Linked DNA regions of Homo sapiens: region 2 is linked to region 1. Evidence: fine-mapped expression QTL. A gene starts in region 1. The other region holds a variant in brackets. All regions are shown on one strand. Distances are between the middles of the regions.

Evidence for each region. PIP is the estimated chance that this variant, and not a neighbour inherited with it, causes the effect.
Region 2: its variant is fine-mapped to the expression of NAT9 in whole blood (INTERVAL, PIP 0.95).

Annotation. Positions count from the first base shown.
Region 1 is chr17:74,774,846-74,777,737 of GRCh38, reverse strand. It overlaps NAT9 (N-acetyltransferase 9), which reads left to right and starts at 1,393. Exons shown (of 7, transcript NM_015654.5): 1 at 1,393-1,471; 2 at 2,031-2,116. The coding sequence starts at 2,040. SLC38A12 (solute carrier family 38 member 12) reads right to left here and starts at 1,239. Exons shown (of 10, transcript NM_017728.4): 1 at 1,161-1,239; 2 at 363-474. The coding sequence starts at 407. RefSeq lists an enhancer at 1,592-1,711.
Region 2 is chr17:74,747,081-74,749,972 of GRCh38, reverse strand. It overlaps RAB37 (RAB37, member RAS oncogene family), which reads right to left. Exons shown (of 9, transcript NM_001006638.3): 9 at 2,638-2,892. NHERF1 (NHERF family PDZ scaffold protein 1) reads right to left here and starts at 1,345. Exons shown (of 6, transcript NM_004252.5): 1 at 686-1,345. The coding sequence starts at 1,126. SLC9A3R1-AS1 (SLC9A3R1 antisense RNA 1) reads left to right here and starts at 106. Exons shown (of 3, transcript NR_187307.1): 1 at 106-910; 2 at 1,046-1,400; 3 at 2,430-2,892. MIR3615 (microRNA 3615) reads right to left here and starts at 1,360; the gene lies at 1,274-1,360. RefSeq lists enhancers at 282-907, 2,196-2,791 and a silencer at 1,112-1,801. The variant C/G (reference allele first, on the strand shown) is at 1,314.

The DNA of each region.
Region 1 (2,892 bases):
ATGTTGGCCAGGCTGGTCTTGAACTCCTGACCTCAGGTGATCTGCCCGCTTCAGCCTCCCAAAGTGCTGGGATTACAGGCGTGAGCCACCGTGCCCAGCCCGGGATTAACATTATAAACAGCATGGCGATTTTGTTTGGCTTGACCACTCTGACAAACACCTTAAAAAGAGAATAAATCTGACTTACATTCTGAGCCACCACAGCAGCACTGTAGTCGCTGCCCCATGGAACTCCCCCATCCTGCTTCCACTATGGTCTGCTCAAGCAGCAGCACTCACTAGTCCCATCTCCAGCAAGCAATGTGCTTTTCTAGAAGCCAGGAACACTTAAGTGAGCAAAAGGTTCTATAAGTCACACTCACGTAGGAAGAGTAGAGTTCCCCGGTCTCTGTAATTTCACCCGCCATTTCCAAAAGTGAGGAAGGGCTGGCAGCAGAGGTTCCTTAGGTGCAAGGACGGCGGCTGCCGCAGCTCCTTAAAACAAAAGAGCAGGCTTCACCTATCTGATGGACTGAGACAGGGGTGGGAGGAGGCTTGCAGACTTCCCCTGCCACCTCTGGTTCTTTTATCACAGACACTTAGGGCCTCAGTATCTGTCACAAGACTCACCCCCGAGGGAGGGGTCACCCTGGATGACAGAAATCTGGACGGTTTCTTCTAACATTTCCCTTGCTGTGCAGGGCACTGCTCTGTGCCCAGCACGGATGTTTTCAATGCTGCTCGGGGTGCAAGTGATTTAAGGGGCCTCTAAAACCACTAAGTCTCACCCACCACAAGAGCCCCCTTTCCACGCTCTGGGGTGGTTATCCTCGTTTAGTTCCAGGAACCAGGAGCTCACTACCACACATGGGAGCCCAAGGAACTGTCTGCCGCCTCTGCCTAGGGCAGGGAGCTGGGGGCTTTCCTACATTGCCCTTCCAACTCCACTCTTGGCACTAAGGCCTCCTTTTTTTAATGGGGCCTCCACTCCCTGGCCCCACCTACTCTCTTAGGGTTCCCCACCCTCAAAGCTCCCTCTTTTCTCAAGAACCCCACTCCCAGCCTCTCCCTCTCTCTCCCTCCTGGAGGAGTCCCGAGTCTAGTGCCGCCCCGCCCCGCCCCAACCTATCCCGACCCGTCTCGTCCTCTCCCGCCCGTCCCGACCCGACCCGACCCAACACCTGCAGCACAGCCAGCTCCCAAGCCGCCGTCTCCCGCCGGTCCGCTGCTGCCGGCGCCAGCTGTCCAGCACCAGCTTCCGCAGCGCGCATGCGCCGGCCCCACAGCCCACCTTTTTCGCGCGCGCTGATTGGGCGCCTCGCGGGGGCGGGACCGGGATTGGGGCCTGGCGGCTGCCGTCAGCATGGCGGAAGTGGGCGGGGCGCGTTCTCACGCGCATGCGGAAGGGGCGGTAGCCGGCCGGGCCTGGGAACGTGGCTGGTTGGAGGAGGTAGATCACCCTTTCTGCGGGGGACGATTTCGTCGGTGGTAGGTGGGTGTGAGCTTGGCAGTACCCGGGTCCGCGTGGTTGGAGGGTCGAAGAGAGTGGTCTAGAACGCCACTCAAAGGGGAGGGCCTAAGACTAAGCCCGCCTTGCCCTGAAGTGGTCGGGGGCGGGGAGGGAGTGGCTAGAGCCCCGTGGGGTGGTCGCCGGGGTAAGAGGTTGGAAGTAGGTTTAAGGCAGGGCTGAAAGTTGATTCTGGGTTGGAATCCCTGGACTGGGGCAAGTAATGGGAGCTCTGGGGATACTTTGGTACTTGGTACTTGGTGCTTGGGTTTGAGGAATCGAAGTTCTGGGGAGTGGACGGAAGGAACCGGCAGAAACGGAGCCCAGGCTTGGCCTCTTGGAGTGGGAGTCAAGGATTGTTTAATTATCCTTAACCAGCCTGGTTCTCTTTCTTGCAAGAATTTTGGAGTCTGTATTCTTTGAAGTGTCTAGACGGAACTAATGACGGAAGTCAACTTAGCCCCAGCAGGAAAGCTGGAGCGCCTACCCAAAGTTGGAGGAAATTCAGGGTCCTGAAGTCTTTGCTCTCCCCATCTGCATGCAGGCTGCTACCATGAGGTTGAATCAGAACACCTTGCTGCTGGGGAAGAAGGTGGTCCTTGTACCCTACACCTCGGAGCATGTGCCCAGGTATCTTTCCCGCTTGACATGGGGTGCGTATCAGCACCCAGAGCTGTGTAAGGTACAGCCCCAGTCTCAGGGCTATTTCCCCTAAGAAGAAACATTGGTTGTGAGAAATAATTATATATGAGGGGGGAAAAAAGGCTGGGTGCCGTGGCTCACGCCTGTAATTCCAGGACTTTGGGAGGCTGTGGCAGGAGGATTGCTTGAGCCCAGCAGTTCGAGACCAGCTTGGGTAACGTAGCGAGACCTTGTCTCTACAAAAAAATACAAAAATTAGCCAGGCATGGTGGTGCACAGCTGCAGTCCCAGCTACTAGGGAGGCTGAGGTGGGAGGATTGCCTGAGCCCAGGAGATGAAGACTGCTGTGAGCTGTGATTGTACCACTGTACTCCAGCCTGGGTGACAGAGCAAGAACCTGTCTCAAAAAAAAACAAAAAAAACAAAAAAACAAAAACAAACAAAAACAAAAAAACGGCCGGGTGCGGTGGCTCACGCCTGTAATCCCAGCACTTTGGGAGGCTGAGGCGGGTGGATCATGAGGTCAGTAGTTCAAGACCAGCCTGGCCAACATGATAAAACGCCATCTCTACTAAAAACACAAAAAATTAGCTGGGCTTGTTGCCCGGCACCTGTAATTCCAGCTACTTGGGAGGCTGAGGCAGGAGAATCACTTGAACCAGGGAGGTGGAGGTTGTGGTGAGCCGAGATCACACCACTGTACTCCAGCCTGGGCAACAGAGTGAGACTTTGTCTCAAAAATAAAATAAAATAAAATAAAGGCT
Region 2 (2,892 bases), 28 kb after region 1:
TCTGAGGTGGCAGAACCACCACTCCGAGATGCCTTGGCTCCTCCTCCCTGCCAGGCAACCCCCACACCGCCCTGAGATGGTGGGGCTTCCTCTCCCTTAGAAGTCACACAGGACTCCGGGAGGATGAAGTCCAGCAGGACTGAAGTTCAGGACACACACCGGCGGGCTGCGGAGAGGGCCTCCTCGCGCCGGGGCTCCACACAGGAGGAGTAATGCTATTCCTCTAGCTTTTGAAGTAGGAGTGGCGGGCGAAGCTGGCACCTCTGGGGCGGAGAGCCCTTTCTCCCCGGCCCATCTGCGGACTGGGGTGAACGAGGAGAGGGCACCAGGGAAGGAGCAGGATTGGGGGATTCCGAGGAACGGGAGCAGACACCCACAGACCCGAGGGAAGGGGGCTGGGTTCCCCTGCGCCGCCCTCCCAAAGGCCAGGGAACAAGAGGTGCAGGCGGCAAAGGCGCTCAAGCTCCCAGCACAGCCTGGGAAGGAGAGGAGGTCGCGGGACGCAGCCCCAGGCCTGCCTAGGATGTGTCAGGGCGCCTGGTCGGCGGGCGGAAGCGGTCTCCCCCTCGCAGCTCGAGTTTCAGAAAAACGACGGCGGGCGCGGGGCTGGACGGCCGGGGCACCTGGGTCTCTCCGGATCCTCCTCCCACTCCATGCCAGCCTGCGCGGCTTGGGCCCCGCTTACCTGCTCCGGGTGGCTCTTGTCGGCCTCGCGAGGCTCATTTTCGTTGCCAGCCCCCTGCACCTCGGCGGCGGCCGGCGGCTCGGCCTGCCCCGGCGCTTCCTGGGCGCGCAGCAGCTCCTCTCGGACCTGGACGCCGAGCTTCTGCAGCTGCTCGTCCGTCTCGGGGTCGACCACCAGCAGGCGCACGGCGTTGAGTGCGGCGCGGATGCGGCTCACCACCTGCTGGTGGGTCTCCTTCTCCACGTTTTCGCCGTTCACCTCCACCAGCCGGTCCCCCGCCAGCAGCCCCGCCTTCTCGGCCGGCGAGCCGGGCTCCACCAGCCGGATGTACTGGCCCAACTTGCCCTTCTCCCCGTGCAGGTGGAAGCCGTAGCCGTTCGGACCCTTCTCCAGGCAGCAGAGCCGGGGCAGGGGCGCCCCGGCCGCTGCGTCCGCGCTCATCTCGCCCTGCGACGGGTCAGCGGCGCGACTTGGGGTTCCGATGGGGACGGGACGGGACGGCCCAGCCCTTCTTCCCGTCCAGCGAACCGGGAGCGCAGCAGAGAAGCCCTGAGCCGCCGGACGGGCCAAGCAAGCAGGTGTCCCAGGAACCGTCGGCCGCCGCGAGCCGCGAGGAGCCGAGAGAGGA[C/G]CACAGACCAATCCCCGCCCCGCGCGGCGTCTGAGCGTCCCAGAGTCCGCCCCGGCTCCTTACCCCGGGGGCGGGGCCGCGCTGAGGGTGGGGACCTCCGCGGGCCAATAGGGGGCTGCAGGCCTGGGCGCTCCGGCCGGGTGAACGGCGCCGGCCATTGGGAACGCGCGGGGCGGGGCCTGCGCTCGGCGCGGCGCCCCGCGGCGGGCGAAGACTAGCGCTCAGGAAGTGGAAGTGTTTGTTACCGAGCGGCCGGCGCTGGGGTGGCAGGGGCGGGGCTCGCCGAATTCCCGGTTCTGGGCGGGTGGGCCCGCCGGCTCCGGCCTGGTTTCCCCTACCTGTGGCGGGGAGTGAGGAAAGCCGGCCCTCGGGTAAAGGACCCTAACTTTTTTTTTTTTTTTTGAGACGGAGTCTCGCTCTGTCGCCCAGGCTGGACTGCCGTGGCGCGATCTCGGATCACTGCAACCTCCGCCTCCCGGGTTCAAGCGATTCCCCTGCCTCAGCCTCCCGAGCAGCTGGGGTTACAGGCGCGCACCACCACGCCCCGCTAATTTTTGTATTTTTAGTAGAGACGAAATTTCGCCATGTTGGCCAGGATGGTTTCAAACTCCTGACCTCAGGTGATCCGCCCTGGGATTACAGACGTGAGCCACCGCACCTGGCCAACGTTTTAACAGCCTTTAGCCAAAGCCTGGGTGCAGCTCCAGTTGAGAGGGAGCGGCTGTTGCCGGGGCAACTGCTCCCGCTCGGGGCAGCGAGGGCCGGTCAGTCTCGAGAATTAAGACGGAGGGCCTCCTCGGACCCTACAGAGTTGTTTGAATAACATTTTTCCGTTTGTGGGAACCCTAACCCTAATCCACTTTGTGCTGTCCCAGGACTCGCATAGAGGAGTGCAGGTTCTGATCCCTGCTGGGAAGGTGAGGGCTCCGCGGAGAGCCTGGGACCTCGAGGGGCAGCCCGCTGAAGACAGGCCATCTAGGGCAATAGCGTGGGCTTTGGCAGCAGCGTTTGGCTAGGGAGGTGGGGTGGGGAGAGGCAGGACAGACTCAGGTAATCAACCTCTGGGTACACGCCACAGGGAAAGGAGCCTTGGTTTTTTTTTTTTTTTTCCAACAGAAAAATGATTAGGACTGTAAAGCCTTCTAGCTCCCTCTTGCCAAAGAGAGGCTGGTCACAGAGGCGGGAGACAGTCTGTTGAGCGGGGAGCTGACCATCTGAGGACAGACACTGAGGAAGGAGGATGGAATGATTTTGGCAGTGAATGACAATTCCTTCAACAAGACCCCCCCCCCCCACTCACTTCAAAGAAACAGTGGACAGGATGTGCTTTCCAAAATACTGCAGTTTAATTCTGAAAAACTCAAATGCAAGAGGCCCAGAGCTGTCTATGGGATTGGATCTCCTGCAACCTGCCTTGGGCCCCAGAAGAGACTGGCAATGTCAGCCTCCTCCCTGCTCTGCCTGAGGGAGGCCACGGAGAACTTCCTTATCGGGCCCAAACTGGAGCCGCTGACTGCTCAGAGCAAGATTTCTGCCTTGAAAGCAAATGCAGTAGCCTCAGAAATGTGCAGCGCATACT